Homo sapiens: one gene and its partners. The protein of the gene in region 1 interacts with the protein of each later gene in a pairwise test. Each region holds a gene or a part of one and is shown in the gene's direction. Other genes may lie near its edges. The genes, in order: HELZ, SMYD3 and SH3YL1.

Region 1 (8,595 bases):
AAATGGAGTCTCACTCTGTTGCCACGCTGGAGTGCAGTGGTGCGATCTCAGCTCATTGCAACCTCTGCCTCCCGGGTTCAAGCGATTCTCCTGCCTCAGCCTCCCAAGTAGCTGGGATTACAAGCACCCGCCACCACGCCCGGCTAATTTTTGTATTTTTAGTAGAGACGGGGTTTCACCATGTTGGCCAGGATGGTCTCGATCTCTTGACCTTGTGATCCGCTCGCCTCAGCCTCCCTAAGTGTTGGGATTACAGGCGTGAGCCACCCTGCCTGGCCTTTTGTGGTCTTTTTAATCAGTATTTGCCTTCTTTTGAATTTATTATTGTCTTCCCTCTATGTTAGCTTGGAAATTATTCATTCTTTTACAGGTCTAGTGATTAACTTAGATGTTACAACATGCATCTTTGCCTTTGTCAATGTCTAGTCTTAACTGGTACTTTAGTCGTATTGCTGGATAATGTAAATACTTTGGACCTTTTTTTTGTTTGTTTTTTGCTTTTTTGAGACGGAGTCTCAGTCTGTCACCTAGGCTGGAGTGCAGTGACGGGATCTCTGCTCACTGCAAGCTCCGCCTCCCAGGTTAACGCCATTCTCCTGCCTTAGCCTCCCAAGTAGCTGCGAGTATAGGCGCCCGCCACCATACCCAGCTGATATTTTGTATTTTTAGTAGAGATGGGGTTTCACTGTGTTAGCCAGGATGGTCTTGATCTCCTGACCTTGTGATCCGTCCTCCTCAGCCTCCCAAAGTGCTGGGATTACAGGCATGAGCCACCGCGCCCGGCCTACTTTGGACCATTTTAACTCCACTAACTGCAACCACCGCCCTTCTCAGATTTATACTCACTGTTATCAAATATTTCAATTCTAGATGTACTTTACATTCCTCAAGGCATTATAATTTTTTTTTTTTTGAGACAGTCTCACTCTGTCACCCAGACTGGAGTGCAGTGGCGCTATCTCAGCTCACTGCAACCTCCGCCCCTCAGGTTCAAGCGATTCTTGATTCTCCTGCCTCAGCCTCCCGAGTAGCTGGGATCAGATGACAGGCATGAGCCACCATGCACAGCTAAATTTTGTATTTTTTGTAGAGATAGGGTTTGCCATGTTGGCCAGGATGGTCCCGAACTCCTGGTCTCAAGTGATCGAACTCCTGGCCTCGGCCTCTCAAAGTGCTGAGATTACAGGCGTGAGCCACCGTGGGCAGTCCATTATAATTATTTCTCTTTTTTTTTTTGAGATGAAGTCTCACTCTTGTCACCCAGGCTAGAGTGCAGTGGCACGATCTCAACTCACTGCAACCTCTGCCTCCCAGGTTCTAGCGTTTCTCCTGCCCTGGCCTCTGGAGTAGCTGGGATTACAGGCGCCCACCACCACGCCCAGCTAATTTTTGTACTAAGGCAAATGACCAGGGAGTGTAGTTGTAGAAGAGAAACCCAAGGACTGAGACTTGGGACTCTCCAAGCAGAAAATGAAGGCACTGCGGCCGGGCACAGTGGCTCACACCTGTAATCCCAGCACTTTGAGAAGCCGAGGCGGGTGGGTCACTTCAGGCTAGGAGTTCGAGACCAGCCTAGTTAACATGGTGAAACCCTGTCTCTACTAAAAATACAAAAATTACCTGGGCGTGGTGGTGTGTGCCTGTGGTGCCAGCATTCGGGAGGCTGAGGCAGGAGAATCGCTTGAACCCAGGAGGTGGAGGTTGCAGTGAGCCAAGATCGCGCCACTGCACTCCGGCCTGGGTGACAGAGAAAGACACTGTTTCAAAAAAAAAAAAAAAAAAGAAAAGAAAAGAAGCCACGGCCAGTGGGAGCAGAGGAGAAAGAAAAAATGTGGGAAGGAAGAGGGATGTGATGTCGGGGGGATCAGTTAGTTAGGGCTGTGTGTGTTCATGAGATCAGAATCAGAATTGAGCTAAATCAGTGGTGGCCAAGGGACCTGTTTTCCCTCAACACTGTTCCTTTCTGCCTGCCTCTAGCTGTGTGTGGTCAGTGGTCTGAAGAGATGCGAGGCAGGGCCCTCAGCATCTCACTTCACACTTTAGCACTCCTTTTCATCAACACGCCCATCCCTGAGAGAAGTTTGGTCATGTACTCGACTAATACTTGGTGAGCGTCTATGTATGTGCCAGGCCCTGGTCTAGTCACTGAGGCAAATAAGCCAGACAGAGCCTGTGCCCAGAGGGAGCATATGATCAAATGGGGGCGGGGCAGATAAGAAACAACTAACAACAGGCAAACAAGAGAACTTTTTTTTTGAGATGGAATTCTCACTCTGTCACCCAGGCTGGAGGGCAGTGGCACGATCTTGGCTCACTGCAACCTTGGCCCCCCAGGTTCAAGCAATTCTCCTGCCTCAGCCTCCCGAGTAGCTGGGATTACAGGCGCGCTGTAATTTTTGTACCTTTAGTAGAGACAGGGTTTCACCATCTTGGCCAGGCTGGTCTTGAACTCCTGACCTTGTGATCCACCCACCTTGGCCTCCCAAAGTGCTGGGATTACAGGCATGAGCCACAGCGTCCGACCTAAACAAGAGAACTTCTAACACAGGTCAAGTGTTCAGAGTGACTTGGTCTGGGTAGGGGGATCACAAAAGTCCTCTTTGAGGGGACCTAAATATGATGAAAAGATGATGGGTCGGGCGTGGTGGCTCACGCCTGTAATCCCAGCACTTTGGGAGGCCAAGGCGCATGGATCACGAGGTCAGTAGTTCAAGATCACCCTGGCCAAGATGGTGAAACCCTGTCTCTACTAAAAATACAAAAATGAGCCGGGCGCGGTGGCGGACGCCTGTAATCCCAGCTACTCAGGAGGTTGAGGCAGAGAACAGCTTGAACCTAGAAGGCGGAGGTTGCAGTGAATTGAGATCGCGCTACTGCACTCTAGCCTGGTCGACAGAACAAGACTCTGTCAAAGAAAAGATAATCAGAAGATCTGGGGGAATAGGGTTCTCACTGGAAGGAAGCTTGGGGCGCTGCAGGGAAAGAGAGAAGGCCAGCCTGGACCACTGCTGGTGAGGGAAGGTGGGACCACCTCACACAGGAGCTTGTAGGCCAGGGTTGGGAATCTGGGTTTTATTCCAAGGTTTCAGCAGAGAAGTCTCGATCTGATTTACATTCATAAAATATCACAGGGTTGGTCAGGTGGAGGATGCATTGTAGGTATCCAGGAGGGGCAGGGAGAAGAGTCGGCAGGCCGTCCCAGCTCAGGCAACAGGCGGTGTATTTGACAAGGTTGGGCTTGGATGCACACACTGGAGGCAGTGAATGGGTTGGGCAGTCACACAAACTGAACACTTATTTGGGTCAATGCCTATACAAGGCAAAGAAAGGCTGCTTATCAAAGAAACGTGTTTGGGAGACACAGTCCTTGCCCTCAACTTATTTCCTGTTTACTTATATTAGGTGGGTGCAAAAGTCACTGCGGCTTTTGTCATTACTTTTGCATAAACTCAGACCACATACCTAAAGGTGCCATGCAAACAAAACCACCATTAAGCCAGTGCATACCAGTGGCTAAATAAGTGCAAAAGAGGAATTGGAAAAGAAGCACCTGGGGTACCCTGGAAAGAGACATTGGAGCCTTCTTCAGACGGGCCAAGCATTCCCTTTTCCAGCAGGAGGGGCGCTGCCTCCCCCCAGCCTAGCCCATGCCCTTGGTGGCTACCTTGCTGGGCCGTCTAAGAACCTGGCTCCAGGCTCCAGTTTCTCCACTTATTCCGAGGTGAGAAGCAGGTGACTCAGGGGAGGTTGCTCCCCAGCACGCTGCGTTCTTGGCTGGGAATGACTCACTACCTCGTTCCCTCCTTCACGAGTGACCCGGGGCCAATCCCTTAATGTGTCTACACCTTCTCATCAGACCGGGACAATTGCCTGGTGGAGTTTTTGGCTCCCCAGGGGCAGGGCTCCTGTCTGCCACCGTTCACGTTCCTAGTGAGGCTGTTGATAGGGTCTGGAGGAGCGTAAAATCCTCGGGTAGATCCAAGGCCCCAGGCCCTCCCCGTGCACCGAAAGAGGGTTTTAATGCCAGTGCTTCTGCGGTCTTCTAAAGGTAGAGCCGTTCAACAGCATTTTGTACCGAATACAATTCGCAAGCATTCCTGTCTTGGAGAATTTTCTTTTGGGTATCTCCTTGTTGTAAAAACTTGCTTGGAAAAAAAAAAAAGCAACTGGAGCAGGCCTCCAAAGACAGCAAAGCAGGGACCAGAGGCTCTGCGGAGAGCGCGGGAGGAGGCTGACCAAGGGGCCTCCGTTGCTGGGGGGACCTGGGCGGCTGGACGCCGGGGTCAGTACGCTGCTCGCCCCGCGCAGCCGAAAGCGGGCGTGGTGTCGCGGGGAGAGGATGCCCGGCAGCAGTGTGGCCGGCGGGCTGGGGGTACTCGCCCGGGTCAGAGACCTCAGCCCGCGCCAAGGCGCCCCACACTTTCCAGCGCAGCGGGTCGCAGCCCGGAGACGCCGGGCGTCCCCACCTCCAGCCTCCCGAGCTGCAGCGGCGCCCGCGGTTCTCCCCCGACCCGCCAGGTGGACCCGGACTGGCGCACCCTGCTTTCCGCCCGGGACCCTCCCCCGAGCCCTGGCTGCCTCCGCGCCCCGCCCCGCCCGGAGCCCGCAGCCGGCGCCCCGGATTACCTGCCCCGGAGTCACAGTCCGCAGCCCGGACGCTCCCAGGGTGGCTCCGCGGAGCCTGGAGCCACATTCCTAGGGGAGGGGTCCCCACCTAGAGGGTCGCGGATCACGTTACCCGCCCGGAGGAGGAGACCGCGGGACACAGAGTAAACAAGGGGTAAAAAGTTGCATTTGGCTCAATTTTTTTTTTTAAATCGTGCTTCGACGCTGGTGGACTCGGGGACACGGCGTCCTCCCAGTTCCCGGAGCCCAACGGCCCCGGGGCGGTTTCCCAGGGCAGAGGCACCTCTCCGGGCGGCGGGTGCGGAGCTGGTCTGCGCGGCCTCTGAAGGCGACCCCGGCCGCTCGCGGGCTTCCTGGAAGCGCGGCCGCAGGAGCAGAAACGCTCACATCCACGCGCACAAATAAATCCGCGAGCAGCTCCGCGCCGCGCCGCGGGCGGCAAGGAAACCTCGGGTTGATTCAATGCAGACGCGGGGCGTCTGCCCGGGCAGGAACGCGGCGAGGCGAGAGGACCGGGCGTGGGGGCAGGGAGGCCGGGGCAGGAGAAAGGGAGAAAACCCCAAAGCCACGTTTTAAAAATGCGGGTGAATTTTCAATGCCGTCAGCCCGGGGGAGGGGAAGGGGCCAGCTGCGGGCGCCGGGGTCGGCAGTCCACCCGGGGCAACTTTCCGGGCGGGAGGCGCGGCCGGAGGGGGCGGCGCCGGCGGCGGGAGGCGGGAGTCGGGGGCCGGGGGGAGTCACTTTAAAGGCTCTTTCTTACCCATAATGCTTTGTGGGGACGTTGACAAGTGGATCCAAGATGGCGTAGAAAGTAATGACAGGTAAGTCCTGACTTCCCCCTTCTCTGCTCCTGGGGCCGCTCCGCGAGCTCCCGGAGCTCTCCGGGGAGGGGACCCGACTCCCCTCCGGTGTCCCGGACCCCGGGCGCGGCGGCCCCGGGGCAGGCTGGGGGCCTGGGCGGCCCGCGGCTGGGCCTGGGAAGCGCGGCTCTTCGAGGCGAGGCCCGGACGCTGGGGCTGTTTACAGCTTCTTCCCCTACTTAGTCCCCTTCCCCTCCGCTGGGGCCCGCAGCGTCCTGGGCCCTGGCAGGAGAGGGGGCCTTGCACGCCTGGCCCGGGAGCCTGCGGGAGGTTTCTCCGGCCCAGAGCACTCTGGGAGGGGGACTCGAGCCTCCCGGCACGTTCCCCTCCTCCGGGTCGCGGCTGGGGGTGGGGAGCGTGCGGGCCTCCCACGCCCCGCTCGATGCCCCCCCTCAGGCCTCGGACTTCCACCGGGTGGGGTGGGGGCTGGAGCGGGGGCGTGGGGAAAAGTGGGTCAGGCGTGCGCCCCCTCCCTCCCCCGCGGAGGGCTCTCGGCCCGAGATTCACTTTCTTCCCCCCTTTCCCCGCCCCCTCCTCGGAAATGCTCTTTGGCCCACAAGCACATCAACAAAAATAAAGATAGGCTCTCTTTTCCTGGAGATTCCTTGAGAGTACTCCAGTACCCTTTTCAAGGGCTCACAGACTGCAGTCTTACCTAGGGAACTTCGATTCCTCTCCCCTAAATTATTGGAGCCTTCTGCACCCTCGCCTTTGCTGAGAAATCTTCAGACAGGGCTGGAAGCCAGGGTCCTCTGATTGTTCTTGGATCGGGATCCTCAGGTTTTGTTTGCAGTTCAAAAATTGTCATTCCTTCTCCCTCACAACTTAACACTTCTCAGGCAAATCATTAATATAATAAAAAGTGTAACTTCAGAGACAGTGGATTCCTGGAGCGGGGGAAGGAGGGAGGAGTTGTCTGTCTTGCCTAGTTTGTTCTTAATTTTGCTCTCTCTTAAACTCATATTAATGAAATTTCCTCTCCTTCATTTCTTTATGTTTTTGAAAGTAAGGTCAGTCTGTGTTGAAAAAGATGATTTTATTATGTTTTTGAGTTTTAAGAGCATTGTATAATCTATTCTTTTACCTTACTGAAAGGAAATGTTTTAAGGTCAAAAACCAGACTCATTTGCAAAGCTGCACACTGTACCATTTTTGTAACTTTTTCCATTTTAAATGTAGATGCCCTTTCACTTCAGGCTGATAAAATGTTTGCTACTGATAATGTCTGTTACTGGTGTTGTATGGAAACATCTTTTCTATTTGCCTCAGGATTTGGATGAAGTAATGGATCACTAATGAACTACAGTGCTGGTGAGATGTGTAAGGTGAGACTGCAGTTAAAAATGATTTCCTTTTTTTCCTTCTTTATTTTAATCAACTGGTAAGAGTAAGGCTGAAACTGAGTAATTTGATGGGGCCATCTTTGTTTTCCAAATGTATCACTCAGTCAGTGGGTCTATGGGCAGGGCTAGATTTAGAAAGGAAAAATATGTTGAATGTACCAATCTTTTCAGTTGCTCCAACATACTCAAACATAGTGGTACTTAACTAAGAGCCAAATGTTACTTGCAGCTATTCTTGATCAGTATCTTCACCAGGGATAATTATAGTTTGCCTATTCAAATTTTCTTGCGTAACTTTACTTGGATGTCTTAATTTTATTTGTGTTTTGGTGTCTATCACCTACTGTACGTTTAGTCCCGGTGATTATGTATATGGATTTTGTGTGTACCTGGTTTGTGGGACTCGTAAAGTATACCCTTTCCGTTAGAAAGAATTAGGCAGGTCAATCACTCCTGCTTTTATTTTCTGAAAAATGGAGTAGTACTTTTCTCTTTAATAATTATTTTGAAATAAAGATGATAGTGTTGAGATCTGTTTAGCTTATTAGGAAATAGACTAGTTTGTCATTATGTCCTGATCACACACGGTGTGTGAATTTATTCAAAGTGCTTTATTTAATCTAATTTGTAATGCTTTGGATTTAAAGGATATTATTGATACAGTGTTAGTGAATAGTTTTCTGTGCTATAGAGAGGAAGAGAAGTTTGCTACTTTTACATTTTTCACGAGTTTTCTCAACTTAAAATGTTTTACTAAGTTTTTTTTTAGAAAAATAATAAGTAATTGTGGTCGATTGGTTACTGTAGTTTTTTTTTTGTTGTTTCTCCACACATCTGGGCCTCTGGATTTTGAAATCCTCTCACAAATTTTTCGTGTCTATCACAACATCTGTTTAAGAAGAATAAGCTATCCTTTTTTTTTTTTCTAGATTGAGGCATGTAATTGACATTTTGCCTTAAAAAAATAAAAACTTAGGAAAGGAAGGTGGACATAAACCAAGATTCTTTTGTAAGTGCACATACTGCATTTTCTTGTGTTTGAAACTCAGCAGTGCTTATGTTTATTTCATATAATTTTTATTTTTGGCAGAGCAAATATGGATTTTTAAATTTATTTTTATTTTGCAGATGGAGGCATATTCCTGCCTTAGACCTCCCAATTTGAACTTTATATATGTGTGTATATATACATATATGTGTGTATATATACATATATGTGTGTATATATACATATATGTGTGTATATATACATATATGTGTGTATAGATATGTGTGTATATATGTATATATGTGTATATATGTGTGTATCTATGTATATAGATAGATAGATTTTTTTTCTTTTTTTTTTTTTTTGAGACAGAGTTTCACTCTTGTTGCCCAGGCTGGAGTGCAATGACGCGATCTCAGCTCACTGCAACCTCTACCTTCCAGGTTCAAGCAATTCTCCTGCCTCAGCTTCCCGAGTAGGGATTACAGGCTTACGCCACCACACCCGGCTAATTTTGTATTTTTAGTAGAGAGAGGGTTTCACCATGTTGGTCAGGCTGGTCTCGAGCTCCTGACCTCAGGTGATCTGCCCGCCTTGGCCTCCCAAAGTGCTGGGATTACAAGCGTGAGCCACCATGCCTGGCCTTATCTTTTTTCTTGAAGCCTACAGATAATTTTGTGGAAAGGAGCCAGTGGTCTGCTTTTTGACTGTGGAGATGTTTGTTTGTAGTCTAAAATGGAATACTTAGAAGTAGGTAATCTTGTGTGGCTAGTGTTGT
Region 2 (8,540 bases), on another chromosome or scaffold:
TGCTCCCCGTGCCCAGGGGTCCGGCTCACCCCCAGCCCACAGGAGGCACAGACGGGGCCCTGTAGGACACACAAGCAAGGCCCCGTGCCCAAGAAGGGTCATCCCACGGCAGAGGTTGGGGCTCAGGCCCAGCCTCATGGGAAGACTGGGGCAGAACCCAACTTGGGAGAGCTCAGAAGCCTCAAGCCCTGGGGAGGTCCCTCTCTCCAGAAGCCATATCCCACTGAAATGAGTGCCCCTCATGAGGAGCTGCAAGACCCTGTCTGACCCAGCCTCCTGGAAGGGTCAGATGACCCTCATGGGGAGGGTCACTGACTCTGGGGACTGAAGTCCCAGTGGGCCCAGCTCGAGCCACCAGCCCCCAGCCTTGAAGGGCCAGGTCCTCCAGTGTCTGCTGTCCCCATAGATCTCTCTCAGGCTCAACCTGCACCTGTGGGATGTGTATTTGGTAGAAGGGGAACAGGTGTTGATGCCGATGGCATGCACTGCCTTTAAGGTTTAATGGAGTAAGTCCACGTGTGCCCAATGGCACTGGGGAGCACTGGGGTCAGACTCGGACTGGCCTGAGGGCAGCTTCCTCACACTGTCCCCATGATCCTCTGCTCTGGCCCAGGGGGAGGTCTGGCTGGGTGGGCTGGGCAGGGCACAGTGACACCAAGCCCACCCCCGACATGTTCCAGATGAAAGTCTGGAGTGTGGTGAGCACTTCCCTGCCCAGGCCACCCCCAGCCACAGCCTCCTATGCACATCTGGACCCCTGGGGTGGCCACAAAAGGATCTGGCACCTCCCAGTGGGAGACGGTTGAGGTGGCAATGAGGTATGGGCTCTGACCCTCCCAGGGAACTCTCCTGGCCTGATGCCCACCCTATCCCTAGAGGGCCTCATGAAGACATCCAGGTCTGGCCCATGGGCAGTTTTGGGGGCTGGTTCTCCCATACCTAGGCCCTGGATGAAGACGCAGCTCTCGGGCACCCTTGGGCCTCTACGAGGAAGCTAACAAGGAAGAATGGGGACCTGCCACCCCCAGATGGGCTTCCATACCAGGCCCCCTCCTGAGTCACCCTCTGGGGCAGTCAATAGTGGGGGAGCGCCCGGGACCCCCAAGCCTACTACCTGGGCCTTCCTCTTGTGCCTTTTCTTCCTCCTTTTCCTCCTGGACTCTAAGAAAGACAATAGGCCCCCGGTCCTCAGGGCAGGTGCTCAGTGCATGTGCACTGCACATGCTGTGCACGCAGGAGGGGGATGTGGGCAAGACCTCTCCAACAAGCCCCCTCCCACTTTCCACGGTGTCCCGCCCCCCCCCAACAGGGCCCTTGACGGCACTGGAGGAGCCAGACCCATTTGTGGGACCCCCCCCACCCCTCCCTGCAAGCACTGACAGCCTCAGAGAGCAGCAGAGGCCCCTCACTCCTGAACATCCCTCCAAGGGTGCCAGGACAACGAGCCTTGAGCCAGGGAGACAAGGGAGTCGGTGTCCCTGACCCCCAGAGCTTTCAGGGCAAGGGCACAGGTGGGACCCCTGGCCCAGAGCCAGAGCCAAGAGTTCAGCCAGGTGTGGGAATGGTCAGTCCTGGCATGGACCGGGCAGCCCAGGAGGGCAGAGGGGGCCCCGTATCTGGGCCCTCTTACTCATGGTAGAGACAGGTCCCCAAGTGAGGTAGCAAGGGGGCTGGGTGACAGCCAAGGCCCCTCCCACCTGAGTTCTGACTGGGGATCATATACCAGGCCCAACAGCCCTGGGATGAGGGCATGGGGCAGGAAGCCCCCAGCCAGCCTGAATCCTGGGGGGCAGTCCCAGGAGCCACCTGCTGTGCCCCGACAGCTTCCCTACCCCAGGTGACACACACCCCTCCCTCTGGGATCAGCAGCCTGCAGGTGTGTCCTCAGTGTCAGACCCCAGGGGCCACCGAGAGACCCTGAGGACTCCGGAGACCCAGGCAGGTGGGGCCCGGCCCAGAAAGGACTCTTTGGGCCCACTGGAGGTGCTGCCTGATCACGTCTGTTTTTCTTTCAGCCAAACCCAGGCAAGGGTCCTCAGCAGCCAGGGCTGTGCTGGCTTCACGTGGCAGGAAGGCCCTCTGCAAGGGGGATGGGCAGGTGCCCCCTGGCCCACCAGCCTGGTTCCAGCGGCCCATTTGGTCTGCTTCCCCACCATGGGTTCCTTGTCCTCTCACACCTGTCCTGGTGGGGCTTCCATGTGGCCAAGGCCCAGGGGCGTGAGGGGGCTTCTGGGGAGCCCAGGGCAGCAGGCCATTCTCTGGGGGACCCAGGACTTATGGTGTGCCCAGCCTGGCCTTGGCTCAAGGAGGACCTCGGGGTTCCTGGAGGTACCTGCAGCGGAACTCCATGTCCCGACTCCCAGTGGACTTGGATGTGGGGGGCCCTTGGTTCCATAATAATTTCAAACAGAGCTGCTGAGCTCATGTCCCTTCTGAATGTGTCCTGGACAGCCCTGGGACCATGGGGCAGGCTTAGCCCCGGAAGCCCATGGGGACCCCCATATCAGGCCCTGCCTAGGCCCATCAGGACTAAGAGGGAAGTTGGGAGATGCCCCCACAGCAGCATGGGCACCTGCATCTGGCCCCCTTGGTGGCCAATGACGGGCATGCCTAGAAGGAGCCAGGGTGGCACCCCACCAGCAATCCCAGACACCTTGGAAAATGCTGTTCAATGAGGAAGCCGGTCCCGTCAAGGCCATGAGAGAGAAAGGTGAGCATGGCATCCCTGCAGCCCAGCCAGCCAGTAGCATGCCCTGGGTCCTTGGTCCCAACCTGTGGAACAGTGTCCCCCTCCCAGGGCACAATTCGCAGGCCAAGAGGGGCCTGGCCTAGACCCCAGCCCTGGGAAGAGCGGGGAACCAGAGGTGTGGTGGGCTCCCAGCTGCAGTCAGCATGGCCATGCAGGGGGCCCTGGTACCACGGAGCTCTGCACTGTCACAATTCACCTCGCAGGGGCCGGCGAGATCCCGAAGCCTCGCAGCAACTGCTGCAGCCACAGCAGGCGCCACCACCACATGCCTTCCAGCCGCCAGTGCAGGGTTTCCCGACAGCAGGGTGTCCTGCAGCCCTCGCCTCAGCGGCTCAGACGCTGAAGGTATCTGTGGTTCATGTTTCTAGTGCTCCCACCAAAGAGAATCACTATGGAGGATGCTCTTGGTCCTGAGGTGAGCAAAACAGCACGCCCTGTGAATGGAGCCGGCTTCTTTCCTGGCCACCATGCTTGCTGGATGGGCCCACGGAGCAAGTGGCCTTGAGACGGGCATGGGAACGGAAGAGGCTCAGCATCCTGCACGTGCCCTTACCGAGGCTCACCAGGCTGACACCACTGCTGAGCGCCCCTCCGTGGATGAGACACTTGCACCCAGTCTCTGGGTTGGCACCATTTCCCAGGAGGACCAGCTGGCCACCTGCTGGCAGGCTAATCACACTGTGGAGGGGGCTGAGATTGGCTTTCACTGCACCAAGCCACAATGTGGACGTGGATTTGCCGGCCCTGCAGTGCACACAGCACTGCTTCTGACCAGGACACCCCATTCACAGCTGGGGATGTGCAGCATTGCGCTCCCACCTCAGGGCCTTGGCTCTGCCACCTCGACTTGGAATGTTCTCAGCTCCCTCCAGGCTTCTAGAAGCATCTGGGACACAGCTCATGGCTGGATAAGCACCCGAGGCCCCACAACCCAAACAAGCTTCCCATCCTCATTTTATTTTTTGTCAAACTTATGAAAATTTATTAAGATATGACTTACATCCCTGGTAAGTGCACAGCTTAAAAGATATTCACAGATGGAACACACCAGCCCCCAGATCACAAAGCCAACCATGCCCAGCCCCTCCCAACACCCCCAGCCCTGAAACCAGTGTTCTGACTTCTGACAGCACCACGAGCCTGCCTTTTGTACTTTACACTCATGGAAGCATAACCACCTTCATGTTTTAAAATAAATGTTTACTTTTGAAATGACTTTAGATACACAGAAAAATTGAAAGGCACTATAGTGTACTCCTACACCTTCCATCCAGCTGCCCTTAATAATGACATTTTGCATTACCATGGCACGTTTGTCCAAACTAAGAAATTTAGGCCGGGTGGGCTGGGCGCGGTGGCTCACGCCTGTAATCCCAGCACTTTGAGAGGCCGAGGCGGGCGGATCACAAGGTTAGATCGAGACCATCCTGGCTAACACGGTGAAACCTCGTCTCTACTAAAAATACAAAAATTAGCCGGGCGTGGTGGCAGGCGCCTGTAGTCCCAGCTACTCAAGAGGCTGAGGCAGGAGAATCGCTTGAACCCGGGAGGCAGAGGTTGCAGTGAGCCAATATCGTACCACTGCATTCCAGCCTGGGCGAGAATGAGACTCCGTCTCAAAAAACAAAACAAAACAAAACAAACCCCAAAAACAAAAAAGAAAATTAAGCTGGGTGTGGTGGCTCACACCTGTAATTCCAGCAATTCGAGAGGTCGAGGCAGGAGGTTCAGGTTCACTTGAGGCCAGGAGTTTGCGACTAGCCTGGGCGACATAGGTAGACTGTCTCTGGAGGAAAGTAAAAAGCATTAGCCAGGCATGGTGGCGTGAGCCTATAGTCCCATCTAGTCAGGAGGCCCAGGCGGGAGGATTGCACATGCCTGTAGTCCCAGCTACTATGGAGGCTGAGGCAGGAGAATCGCTTGAACCCGGAGGTCAGAGGTTGCAGTGAGCCGAGATCTCGCCACTGCACTCCAGCCTGGGCGACAGAGCAAGACTCCGTCCTAAAACAAAAAAAAGTTACAGTGCAAAGTACTAGTTGTGATGTCATGATGCCTGCAACTTTGAAATAGTTTAACGACAATACGTGTATACATAGCTACAGGTGGGGAGAGAGTGACGAGCAGAAATGGCAAAGTGCTAGGTTGTCTGATTTAGGCGGAGGTATATAGGTGTTCACTGCACTGTTTTCAACTGTTCCGTATGCGTTAAAATGATCGTAATACAATGTTAGAGGGAGAAAAAAAACCCCGCCTGTCTTCTGCGCAGTCGCCATGGGCACGAGCCGCACGCGGAGCCTTACGACCACCTTCAGGTCCCACACACTCCACTCCAGCCGTCCCTCCAGACTCCATCTGCGCATGCTCTTGCCCCACCGCGCCCGCCCCGCCCCTCGGGCGTACGTGTGCGCGCAGGGCGCAGGCGCGCGGGTCCCGGCAGCCCGTGAGACGCCCGCTGCTGGACGCGGGTAGCCGTCTGAGGTGCCGGAGCTGCGGGAGGATGGAGCCGCTGAAGGTGGAAAAGTTCGCAACCGCCAAGAGGGGAAACGGGCTGCGCGCCGTGACCCCGCTGCGCCCCGGAGAGCTACTCTTCCGCTCGGATCCCTTGGCGTACACGGTGTGCAAGGGGAGTCGTGGCGTCGTCTGCGACCGCTGCCTTCTCGGGTGCGTAAGGAGCGCCCTCGCCTACCTGAGTCGCGAGCTGTGTGGGGTGCTGGGGAGGGGGGGGCGTCGGGCGGCCGGCAGCCGCGGGACTCCTGCTGGATGGGGCTGCACAGGCAGCTTGGCGGTGCTGCCCCTGACGCGCGTGTGCCCGGGGGCGGGTCGCTGCTGACAGGCCCCGCCCGGACACCCCCCTAGGTTGCCGCAGCGGGGCTGGGAGGGGGCCCAGGCTCAGCCACTGCCCCCCAACCTGGGCTGCGGTGGAAATGGGAAAGCCATTGGGCAGACTTGAGGGGGAAGCGTTGTGCCGGGGATAATTTTGCTGGGAGACGAAAAGTCTGTGTGCTGGACAGTCTTCCTTGGTGCGGCTGTGGAAATCACACGTGGCGGGCGTGGGGCTGGGTGGGAGCTGGGATGAGTATAAATCAGGCTCCCCTGCAGAGGCCCCGCCGGTAAAGCATCAGGCTTGCAGCAGGTGGAAGAATCTTGATGTCTACGGTGCACCTCTGTGGTCTGGGTTGTGTGTGGCCTGGGGATACGAAGAGGAACGGGACCTCCTCAAAGAGCTGATCAAGTGAGAGAGAGAATTACAGTGTACCAGAAGGGCTGAAATAGAGGGGCAATTAATGTGCTGTGGGAGCATCAGACACGGGTCCCCCGTGTGCTGTGCCATTTAATGGCTGTGCAGGCATGTCTAACTCTTAACCACCATTCTAGATGCAGGGATTCACGTGAAGGTGTTTTGGAAGCCTGGACGCGCTGTGCCGGTGTAAAGTGCTATGTGAAAGCAATTTATGGAAATGTGTAACATACATGAATAATAGGAACTGCATTCAGTCAACAAATATTATTGAGCTTCTGTGTGCGAGGAAGAAGAGTTCTATTTTGAGATGAGTGCGATGATTTTGTGCATGGCCGCTTTTCAGACCTGCCAGTCTGAGATTTAGGTGGGTGGAGGTGGGACGGTAAGTGCAAAACTCGTATCTGTAATTTGACCATTGTTCTTACTTTGTTCTCATTTGATTCATAATTCAGGAATATGACTTTGCATTTTAGAGCTACCAAATAATAATTTTGTCTGTTGCTTTCTGAAGTAATGATAACAGCGAAAACATCTGTTCGGGAGAGAGCAGCATCTTGAAGTTTTTGTAAACTGTGTGGTTGAAAACAATTCGTTCCTTTCAAGATAGTTCTTGGAACAGAAAAGTTTTGGAATGAATAAATGGTGACAAATTGGCAATTGAATCATTAGAGCTGAAGTTGAGTCTTGTGACACACGGAATTGTGCATTTCCAAAATAAGCTACACAAACCCTTTGTGGGTGGGATGCTTGTTGATTTACCATACTATTTCATTAGTCTCATTCATTTTTCCTGTTTGCAGTAACTGGGGATTTAAGCAAAAAAGGAATTTAATGAAAGAGTTTTGGGGGAGTTCTCAGTGTTGCTTTAAAGTCTGCCAAGACTTGACTGGGCATCGGCTGAACCAAGTTAGGATTGCACTGCAAAAGTAGCTGGGGCTGGGATCTGGGGTGTATATCACTTCTGTCGCCTGATAATATTGGATTCTGCAGTAGGTACCACGAACACCATAGACACTGGACCCTGGTGCTGCTGCTGCTGCTGCTCCTTGGGAAACTCACTGTTGCTGGAGAGTGATTCTCTCAACCATTCTTCTTTGTGATACTGGCTTTTATTCAAAGTCCTCAGTGAGTGTCTTGGATTGGCTAAACTTAGGTCACTGCCTGCACCCCTAGCGCGAGGGAGGTTGAGACGGTATTTAGCCTTTTTGGCTTTTAAGATAGAAGGCAGGCTCACTCTACTTCCCACCGATAGTTATCCAGTGGGGAAATCAGCAAACATAAACATAGAAAAAGGGATATAAGTAAATGCTAAGCATCTAAACAAAACAAGCTAAACAGATTCTTCATAATGACTGACAAATACTTACTAGTATTTTACACAGACACAAAATATTTGCACTTACTTTGGATTGCCAGGATACACAGTTCACTTGTGTTGTGGTAGTAGTTGCTCTGTTTGAACACTCCCATTTTAGTGGTTATAGTGTTCCAAAGAGCCTGGTTGGGAATCACTGCAACCTGAAAATAGTGTTAGGGAAATGTTAGCGCATTGTTTGATGCAGTTTTCTGCCACTGTTGAATGCCTGTCCTTGAGGGATAAGTTTCTGTATTACTTGTCATCTTGTAAGTAAAATTTGTTTCTCTTTATTCACTGTCCATTGTGAAGTCTTTAAGAATAGTGCATCTTTCAGTTTTTGTAGCCCCAGTGTCTAACACATAGTAAGCCCTTAGTTTTAGTATGAATGTCTGGCAGAATTTTCCTCCTAACTGCCCCTGTCCTTCTGCTGCCTTCCATCTGAATTAAGTATGGAATGAAAATGTTAGTTTGTAGCAATTAACAGTTACATGGGAAAGGAAAAATCAAAATAGAATTAAAAAAACAGATATTGATGATAATTACAGTCATGCACTGCATAACGACATTTTGGTCAGCGAAAGACCAGATACATGACAGTGGCCCTGTATGATTATATCATTTTTTAACTGTACTTTTTCTGTGTTTAGGTACATTTAGATACACAAATACTTACCATTGTTTTACAGTTACCTACAGTATTCAGTACAGTAACACGCGGTGCAGGTTTATAGCCTCAGAGCAGTAGGCAGTACAGACAATACCTGCTAGCCTAGGTGTGTAGCAGGCTGTATGTACAGTCTGGGTTTGTGTGAGGATACACCATGATGTTCCTACAACAATGAAATCACCTCATGATGTCCTTAAGGGATGCACATCTCTACTTCCTTAGGCTCCAGAAACAATGGTTACCAAGTTTTACATGATTTCCTTTGCTCTAGAGCTGTTTTGATTAGTAGCTTTAGTTCTGTATACTTGTTTTTGTTAATGGAGAAAGGTGAACCTGCTTCATGGCTTATCTTACCTTTTTCCTCTCATTAAGGAATGGCTTCTGGTTTTTCCGTGTTGTGCCTGGAAAAGAAAATGAAGTATGTAAGTTGTAGAAAGAGTAAATGGCAATGAAATTATAACCTGAAATCACTTTTTTTTTTTTTTTTTTTTTTTTAAGATGGAGTTTTGCTCTTGTTGCCCAGGCT
Region 3 (7,890 bases), on another chromosome or scaffold:
CATATATCTTCCCCACTGTATGCATTCCTCACTATATACATTCTCCACCATCTACATTCCCCACCAAGTGCATTTTCAACTATTACATCCATTATGACATTCTTCAGCATATACCTTCCCCACCACTATTAGTGCGGAAGCATCTAGAAGATTTTGCCAGTCAAGGCTTGTCACATCTCCTTGTTAATTGGATTGTATTTATTCCTATTAGTGAATGTAAACATCTCTTCATATAAATTGCTGGTGTTTTGGATTTAATCTTATCTGAAAAGTCTCTTCATTTCATTGGTCTATTTTTCCTATTGGGATATTTGTTGCTTTCTCAATTTATGGAAATGTTATCTATATTATAGGTTTTGTTGGTCATTTGGATTGCAGCATATTTCTACACTTACCATTTTTCTTTTGATCTTGTTTTTCATAATTTTACTCCATGAAAGTTTTAAATTTTATCTAAAAATAAGTCTATCATTTAGTTTTTATAGATTTGGATACTTTGGTCATGATTAAGGTCTTCCCACCTCCTACACAAGAGTATGTTCATAGTCTCCTAGATTTTCTTGTGATTTTTTTATCTTTGCATTTACTGGATACTTAGTCTTCACATAATTTGAGCTCATTTTCCTAATTTTCCCCTCCTCCCCAATATACAATTCTAGTTGAAACAGTATGATGTACTTGTATCCATTCTATAATTTTTCAATGCTAATTATGGTAACATTACATGTATACATTTATTACTTTGAGATATAATAATTTTACCATTTCATGCTTTCCATTTGTTGAGATTTTATGTCTTTCAATAAGACTTTGTAATTTCTGTGCCTTTTGTGTTAAATTTGTTCCCAAGTACTTTGAGATTTTGATCTGCTAAGGTGAATGGAATGCACTTTTCTATTTCTACTTAAGTACCAATTTTCACAGTGAAGGAAATCTTAATTTGCATATATTTTGTTTGTCTTATATCTCGTCACTTGCTCAAAACTATTTCTAGTCAGTTTTTAAAAATAGATTCTCAGAGGATATTTGTATCCTTTTCCCATCCCACCAAACTTTATTTCTAAATTCTGACTTTCATAAATGTCTTAGGCCAGTGGCCTTCACACTGGTGTGTGCCTGTCTTTAGGAGTACGCAGAGACTGCAAAAGGGGGTGTGGGCACAGGCCACTTAAGAGACACCATCTCCAGATCTCCAGCTCCTGGATAAGTTCTTTTTAAAGCTGAACATGATGTGCAAGGTGTGCTCTTCGTCTTCTGTACTGTTAGAATCAGTTTTTCTGCAGTTGAAGAAGAAAAGCAAACCCCCAGACCGTTCTGCCTCTTTCTACACTACATCACCCCAGAGCGTCAGAACGGGAATCCAGTGTGAAATGTGGATGCAGTTAGTGAATGGCTCTTATGCAGTGTAAATCCTTCCATGAATCAGTGATTTCTGTTTCTTTGCCTTCAATGCAATTGAAGAAGAACCTAATAGAATTGTCATCTGAATTTATAATGAGAATAGTGTGTGTACTTCTGTGTCATACAGATGTCAGGTATTTATCATCTACCTTATACTTCATGTATCTTCTGGCTTTATTCAGGTATACCTTGTGATTTAAAGCGCAATCAAATGATGATGATCCTATCAACTTAGTGATTTAAAATATTTGCTCAGCAAGGGCAGGATCTGGCAATTTTGTGTATTTTGTATGATATATACTAATCAGTTTTCAAAATCACCACTCTCCTCTTTTTTGGCAGGTAACAGAAATGAATATAAGCTCTATCCTGGACTTTCCAGCTATCATGAGAGAGTTGGTAAATCAGTAAATCTATATGTTATAAATGATTCATATTCATTTTGTGATCACAAACTTCCTAATTAATCTGACAGGTTATGAAAATCTCTGGGAAGTGTTCAGCCCTTTAATTTATAGAATATTCACATTCTTTTGAGAAGTACTTCATTTAGAAAATGCTATGCTTTTGTTATCTTACTTGCCTTTAAGGTAATGAGGGTGATAGGAAGCTGACAGTCAGTGTTGTCTGTGTAGGGAGTGTGTGCTGGGGACAGCGCTGCTAAGCCCCGGATAGGAGCTAACCGTCAGTGTTATCTGTGTAGGGAGTGTGTGCTGGGGACAGGGCTGCTGAGCCCCGGGAGCCATGGCATCATCTGAGGAGCATGTGATCTCCTCCACATTTGCTGTCTGGAAGCTTTTGAATTTACAATGGAGATAAAATGAGAAAGTTTGCTAATTCTGAATTACAATTTCATCCTTATTCCATTTTCTCTGTGTTTTAGCACCATAAATTTTATATTTCTAAGAATTTTATTTTTCACATTCAAATGTTTTGTTATTACTGGAAACTACTTTATAAAACTTGTTAAGATTTACCATAGTAAAAATGGTCCTTCAATCTGTCTTACTTAAATATTCTTCAGAGGTTTCCCTGAAGAGAATTGAGCAATTATTTGCAAATGTGAGTGGTACACAAATTGAGGGCAAAGTTAAACAATCATAAAATAGCCTGTTTATTTTTTCACATTGAATACTTTCGTCATTGGAGTCACAAAGCTATATGCTGCTGGATATAAAACTGTCGGAGAATTAAACATTTCATGTAAATAAAATACCAAAAATTAGGTACTCAAGCATATTTTAAAAATTTATATCATGCAGATAAAAATATGTTGAAAAGGTCTCTTAAGCAGCATCCCCTGAAGAGAGGTCAGCATGTTCCTGATGGATTTAGGGTTGGTGACCTTTCTTTTCACCCTGGCCTCCCCTTCTGGGAGCCCACTCCAGTGTTTTTCCCAGATGTTTCTCCTCCGAGGGGGTTGAGCATCTGCTCCTAGAGTCCTGTATGGAGAGCAGGTGCGATGGTCGGGGGCTCACCTACAGAAGATGCTGTGCCATGGTCTTAGGTATGCAGAGAAAGCTCTGAGAGGTTTTAAAAATGTGTTTCACCCTTTGTGGTTCACACCCATGTTACAGGCCATGTTAAAGAGACATCAAGTTCACACCCACATTACAGGCTGATTTAAAGAGACATGAAAAGTTTGGCCTTTGGATACACATCCTGTAGAAGCAAAAGTGGTTAAGGTATAAATGTTGACACCAAGACAGCGTAAACACCTAGATTTTTATCTTACACAGCCTCTTACTTTTAAAGACTCAAGATTAGACTTAGACTTAGGTATCTGGTTGTTAAAGTGCTCCTAAACTTGACAAGGTCAGCTGACTGGCTGCACTTGCTTGGGAAGGGAGGGGATCCCTACAGAGAGACAGAGCTGAGGGAAGCTGGCTGAAAAAGAGCTGAGGCCACAGATCCCCCAAAGAATGCCTTGGTAATGTGACATTGGGAACTAGAGTTCCTTTCTCTATTAGAAACTTCCTATAAACAGCACCAAGGAAAAACGTTTCCTGATAAGAAATTAAACTCTAAGTGGGCTGTGGAGACAGAGATTCCAGTTCGAACCCCCGTACTTTCACTTACCAGCTGTGGGACCCAAAGGGAACATCACTTGCCATGGTTGGTTTCTCCGTTGCTTCTGTGTTTGTATTTGAGGACAGGACAAGGTAAATGGTAACTCAGTTACAACTGAGTTAATATTCCTTTAGCCCATTCTCCAAAGAGGTTCTTGAAGAAAAAATTAAAAGGGAAGATTTACAGTCCACTTTTTAAATAAAACTCACTTTACGTTACGGAATTTTTTTAAACGCAGCTGTGAAGGCATTAACCTCTTACCAAGGATTTCCTCATGTTTGCTTACCATCGCTGCAGAGAAAAGTCACAGTTACATGGCCCCAGGGCCCGAGCCTTAAATTGAAAACCTGATGAAGCAGGACACTGAGTCCTCCACGTGCGAGCTCCTGAATCTGTCTCAGCCCCACGGAGGGGCTGCTGGGTGTGATGATCAGCTACATCACCTGTACTTTCCTCCCACCATCTTTTGGCTTTGCCCTTTGGAAGGTCCAGCTGTGTAGTTCTTGGGCCTCTGAGAGAGACAAGGCTTGCAAATGCACAGTCCAATTTTCTGATCTTCCCTCTAGGGACTCTGGAAGGAATGGTTTCATAATCAAAAGCTTGGACCCTCCAGCGTCAGCATTCTTCCCCGTCCTCTTACCCATCCCATAGTTGTCTGGGATGGGGTTTCTCAACCTGGGCACTACACACAATTTAGGCTGGATAACACTTTGTTGTAGGGGCTATCTTGTGCCTCATAGGGTGCTTAGCAAAGGCTGTGTTCTCCTAGTTGTGACCTTCCCAAGGCTGTGATTTTTTTCCTGAAACAGTCAGGCCAGGGGTGCTGGCTGCACAGGGTCTGCCTCATGCAGGCTCCATGAGAAAGTGGACTGGAAGTGAAACAGGGACATCCACAGACCAGCCTTTCTAATCATGGGCCTCAGGGCAGCTGCCAGTCACCAATGCTGACTGTGATCTAATTCTGCTTCCTGTTTGGGAAAAATAACCCCTACTTCAACTAAACTTGAATATTATAAAGGAAATGGCCAATTCCCTCAAAGATCCTTCCGATTTTTTAAGTACATGAGTATAAGGCTGAAAGGCATATGCTGTGCAGAAGGAAAGGCATCTGTGAATGCCTAGCTTTTTAGTAACTCAGTGGGGTTTGCTTCCCGGTAACCAGGAAGGTTTTTCTTCATGGAAGGAATCATTACTTGACTCACCTTTTATTGGTGAATTCTTTGTGGGCATTAAACTTCTCCTTGTGAAAATTATCTCTAATATTTACATTAAAGAGGAACTTTAAGTCATTTGGAGTTTTTCAAAGAAAAAAACTAACAGGGCACAGCACTAACTGGCTTGTGGATTGTTATCTGAGAAAGCAGATAGGCTCCTGGATCTGCTGGCCTCACTCTTGTGATTTTCATGTGGATGGAGTTTCTCCAACAACAGCTCAACTCCTGACTCTCTTGTACTCCTCCCCAGGAGGCAGAGGCATTTGTGGTCAATTGGGTGAGGAATTGGGCACAAGGAACAGTCAACACACATCTTAGCCTCAGTAAAGGAGAAATGTGAGATCCCGGCCCCCTCAGACCTTCAGTGGTGGCCTTCCCTTCAGCTGCACCTGAAAACCACCCACGTTGCTCCTCTACCCTCCTCTCTCACTCTGCTTTATCCTCATTTCATTTGGAATCTGCAATTCAGAGAAAATTAGACCAACACCTGATTGTGAGGGCAGGGACCAAACCAGGTGTGTGATCTCGCCTTCTTTCTCTTTCTTAGTTCATAATATATTTATTTCTCTAATTATTCCTCATAAAATATATTCCTGAAACTGCTTAGAACCAATTCAGTTATCAGGGATTACCCAGAACCATAGCATCAGATGCTGTTATTTGTACAGTCTGGAAACCCAGTGAGGCAGGTCACCACATTAATCCCCCTTGAACATTTGCCTCATAAAAGTAAAATGCTCCGATAAATGTCAGTTTGGTCTGTTGAGCACAATTTCATATTTATGAGGTTGTTGAGGGTCTTGGATGACCTGGAGACAAGCTTCATTCCTGACCTTGGACAAATTACTTGTTATCTCTGAAGCTCAGTTTCAAATTCTGTGATGTGGGATAGGAGTAGCTGGCTCATTGCAGTGGGCGGTGTAAGAGGAGCACATGTGTGTGCCTGAGCAGTTCGCGGTGGCTGCTCTTCCCAGATGCACATCGATTGCTGTTATCATTGTTGTCGTCCTTATTATGCATTTTTGATTTTATAAATGAGACTGCAAGTGTATAAATGCATGGTAGCTAAGATGGCTGTGGCTCCCAGAACATTCCCTGATGTTCACAAGCACTCTTTTAATTCACTTCTTCCTATTATCTAACGTGTCTGGGAGACAAGAGGGAGGAGAACAGAGTTCCTGGAGGTTCTTCACTGATTTGTTCTGGTTAATTAAGATTCAGCTTTATATGTGGATATCCTAAATATAATCATGAATAAGAGATTTCCAGGATGGATTTTTCTTTAGCATTAGCTTGCATCCTGATCTGATGACAGGGAAGCACGGCGTGAGCGCCTGCCCGGTACCCCACCCAGGGCAGAGCACAGCTCCTTTCACAGTGCATGGCAGCGACTGCTCATTAACGTGTAGAATTTAATCGTGTACTTAGAACGTTTAACTTAACTTCTGTTGTTTCTAGACTATGTCAAAATTTTATTTTGGTGACATTCTTTTATCCTTATTCCTTAAAATTGTTAACTAAAAGTAAATATAGGACAAAATAAAATATACAGAAATTCTTTTTATTATAGAAAAAAGTAGTTATACCAGTATTATCTCTAGTGTAATTATTATTAGGATTATTTCTTTAGAACTCAACTAAATGGCACATACTTTAAAGAAAGAATGGTAGCACCATCTTGTGAGAGCTACAAATTCAGTGTTTTAGTCAGAGTAGTTTAAAGTGTTGACTATTTTTATTTCTTATGGGTGGACCAAATTCACTTTATTATTATTATTATTATTATTATTGTATTATGGGTTCAAATAGGACCTGGCTCTAGAGTCTGGTTATTGATGTTTTCTGTATGTCTGTACATCTAGTTGCCTAATTTATGCACAGAATTATATGAAGCATAGAAGCATCAGACTCCATGTAGCTGAGTGCTCAAAAACTGTTTAATTATATTTTTATGATGTTATGTGGTTTATAATATTTAATGTCCTTTATTCATGTTAACTGCTCAGTTCTCAAAGTATTTTCTTCCTTCTGCAATACATGGATATACACATTGCATTGAAGTACTTGTGAAACATGTAGAAATGCTCCTACCTGTGCTAATTCCAACTTATCTCTGATATTGAGAGGATGGATCAATTAAGCACAGAAATGTAAACAGCCACAAAGCCCAGGGAGAAGAAATGTCTGCTGAGGAAACAGCAAAATATAACTGGGCTGCAATCTTCAAGCCCAGTGAGTAAAGAGCCAGGTTTTAAAGTTGAATCTCCTAGGGTTTGATATAAGCTCACATATCTGCCTTTCTCCAGCATCTGCCATCCATGAAACTGTCACACTATCTTGGCCCCTTCCAGCTGCTGTAACAAAACACCATAGTCTGGGCAGCTCATAGACAATGGAATTTTATTTCTCACGCTTCTGGAGGCTGGATTCCAAGATCAAGGTTCCAGGAGACTCAGTGTCTGGCAAGGTCTCGGTTTCTGCCTCAGAGATGGTGCCATCTGGCTGTGTCCTCACAAGGAGGAAGGTGCAAGAAGCTCCCCTCAGGCTCTGTCTGTAAGACACTGATCCCATTCATGAGGGGGAAACGTAATGACCTAATCAGCCCCCAGAGACCCCACTTCTAACACCATCACCTTGGGGTTGAGGATTTCAACACTTGAATCTCAGGGGGACACAGACATTCAGACCACAGCAATGACTATATTAAAATAGAAAAAATGTAAGTTGTATTATCTCATAGATTATTCAAAATTTAGACGATTGTAACCAGAAGCATGTGCTAAATCCTTAGGTATAGAATGTGCAGAGAAAAATAAGTTTAATAATGTGATGAAAATTACACAGACTGTTGTGGTTTCTGCCAGCCTCCAAGACATCAGCATGCCAAGCCCTAAGTGGTTAATTTTTATCTTACCAGCAGATACCCCCAATTTCTCCCTTAAAGAACATAAACGTGAATACTTTTTTCTTGTTTCAGGCAATTTGAATCAACCCATAGAAGTGACAGCGCTGTATTCATTTGAAGGACAGCAGCCTGGGGATTTGAATTTTCAAGCTGGAGACAGAATCACAGTTATATCAAAAACAGATTCACATTTTGATTGGTGGGAAGGAAAACTTCGAGGTCAAACTGGCATTTTTCCAGCCAACTACGTAACCATGAATTAAAGCGTATACTATTTTCTTCTTTGAGAATTACAAAAAA

Evidence for each region.
Region 2: the proteins of HELZ (region 1) and SMYD3 interact in a two-hybrid assay, tested with the Homo sapiens proteins (one study listed by BioGRID).
Region 3: the proteins of HELZ (region 1) and SH3YL1 interact in a two-hybrid assay, tested with the Homo sapiens proteins (one study listed by BioGRID).

What each region holds. Positions count from the first base shown.
Region 1 is NC_000017.11:67,242,000-67,250,594, reverse strand, and holds the start of HELZ (probable helicase with zinc finger domain), read left to right. Parts: upstream 1-5,398; 5' UTR 5,399-5,447; exon of another isoform or gene 5,448-5,819; intron 5,820-6,755; 5' UTR 6,756-6,811; intron 6,812-8,595. UniProt on the Homo sapiens protein: May act as a helicase that plays a role in RNA metabolism in multiple tissues and organs within the developing embryo.
Region 2 is NC_000001.11:246,503,924-246,512,463, reverse strand, and holds the start of SMYD3 (histone-lysine N-methyltransferase SMYD3), read left to right. Parts: upstream 1-5,184; 5' UTR 5,185-5,246; coding exon 5,247-5,410; intron 5,411-8,540. UniProt on the Homo sapiens protein: Histone methyltransferase. Specifically methylates 'Lys-4' of histone H3, inducing di- and tri-methylation, but not monomethylation. Also methylates 'Lys-5' of histone H4.
Region 3 is NC_000002.12:218,774-226,663, reverse strand, and holds part of SH3YL1 (SH3 domain-containing YSC84-like protein 1), read left to right. Parts: intron 1-1,743; coding exon 1,744-1,800; intron 1,801-7,662; coding exon 7,663-7,853; 3' UTR 7,854-7,890.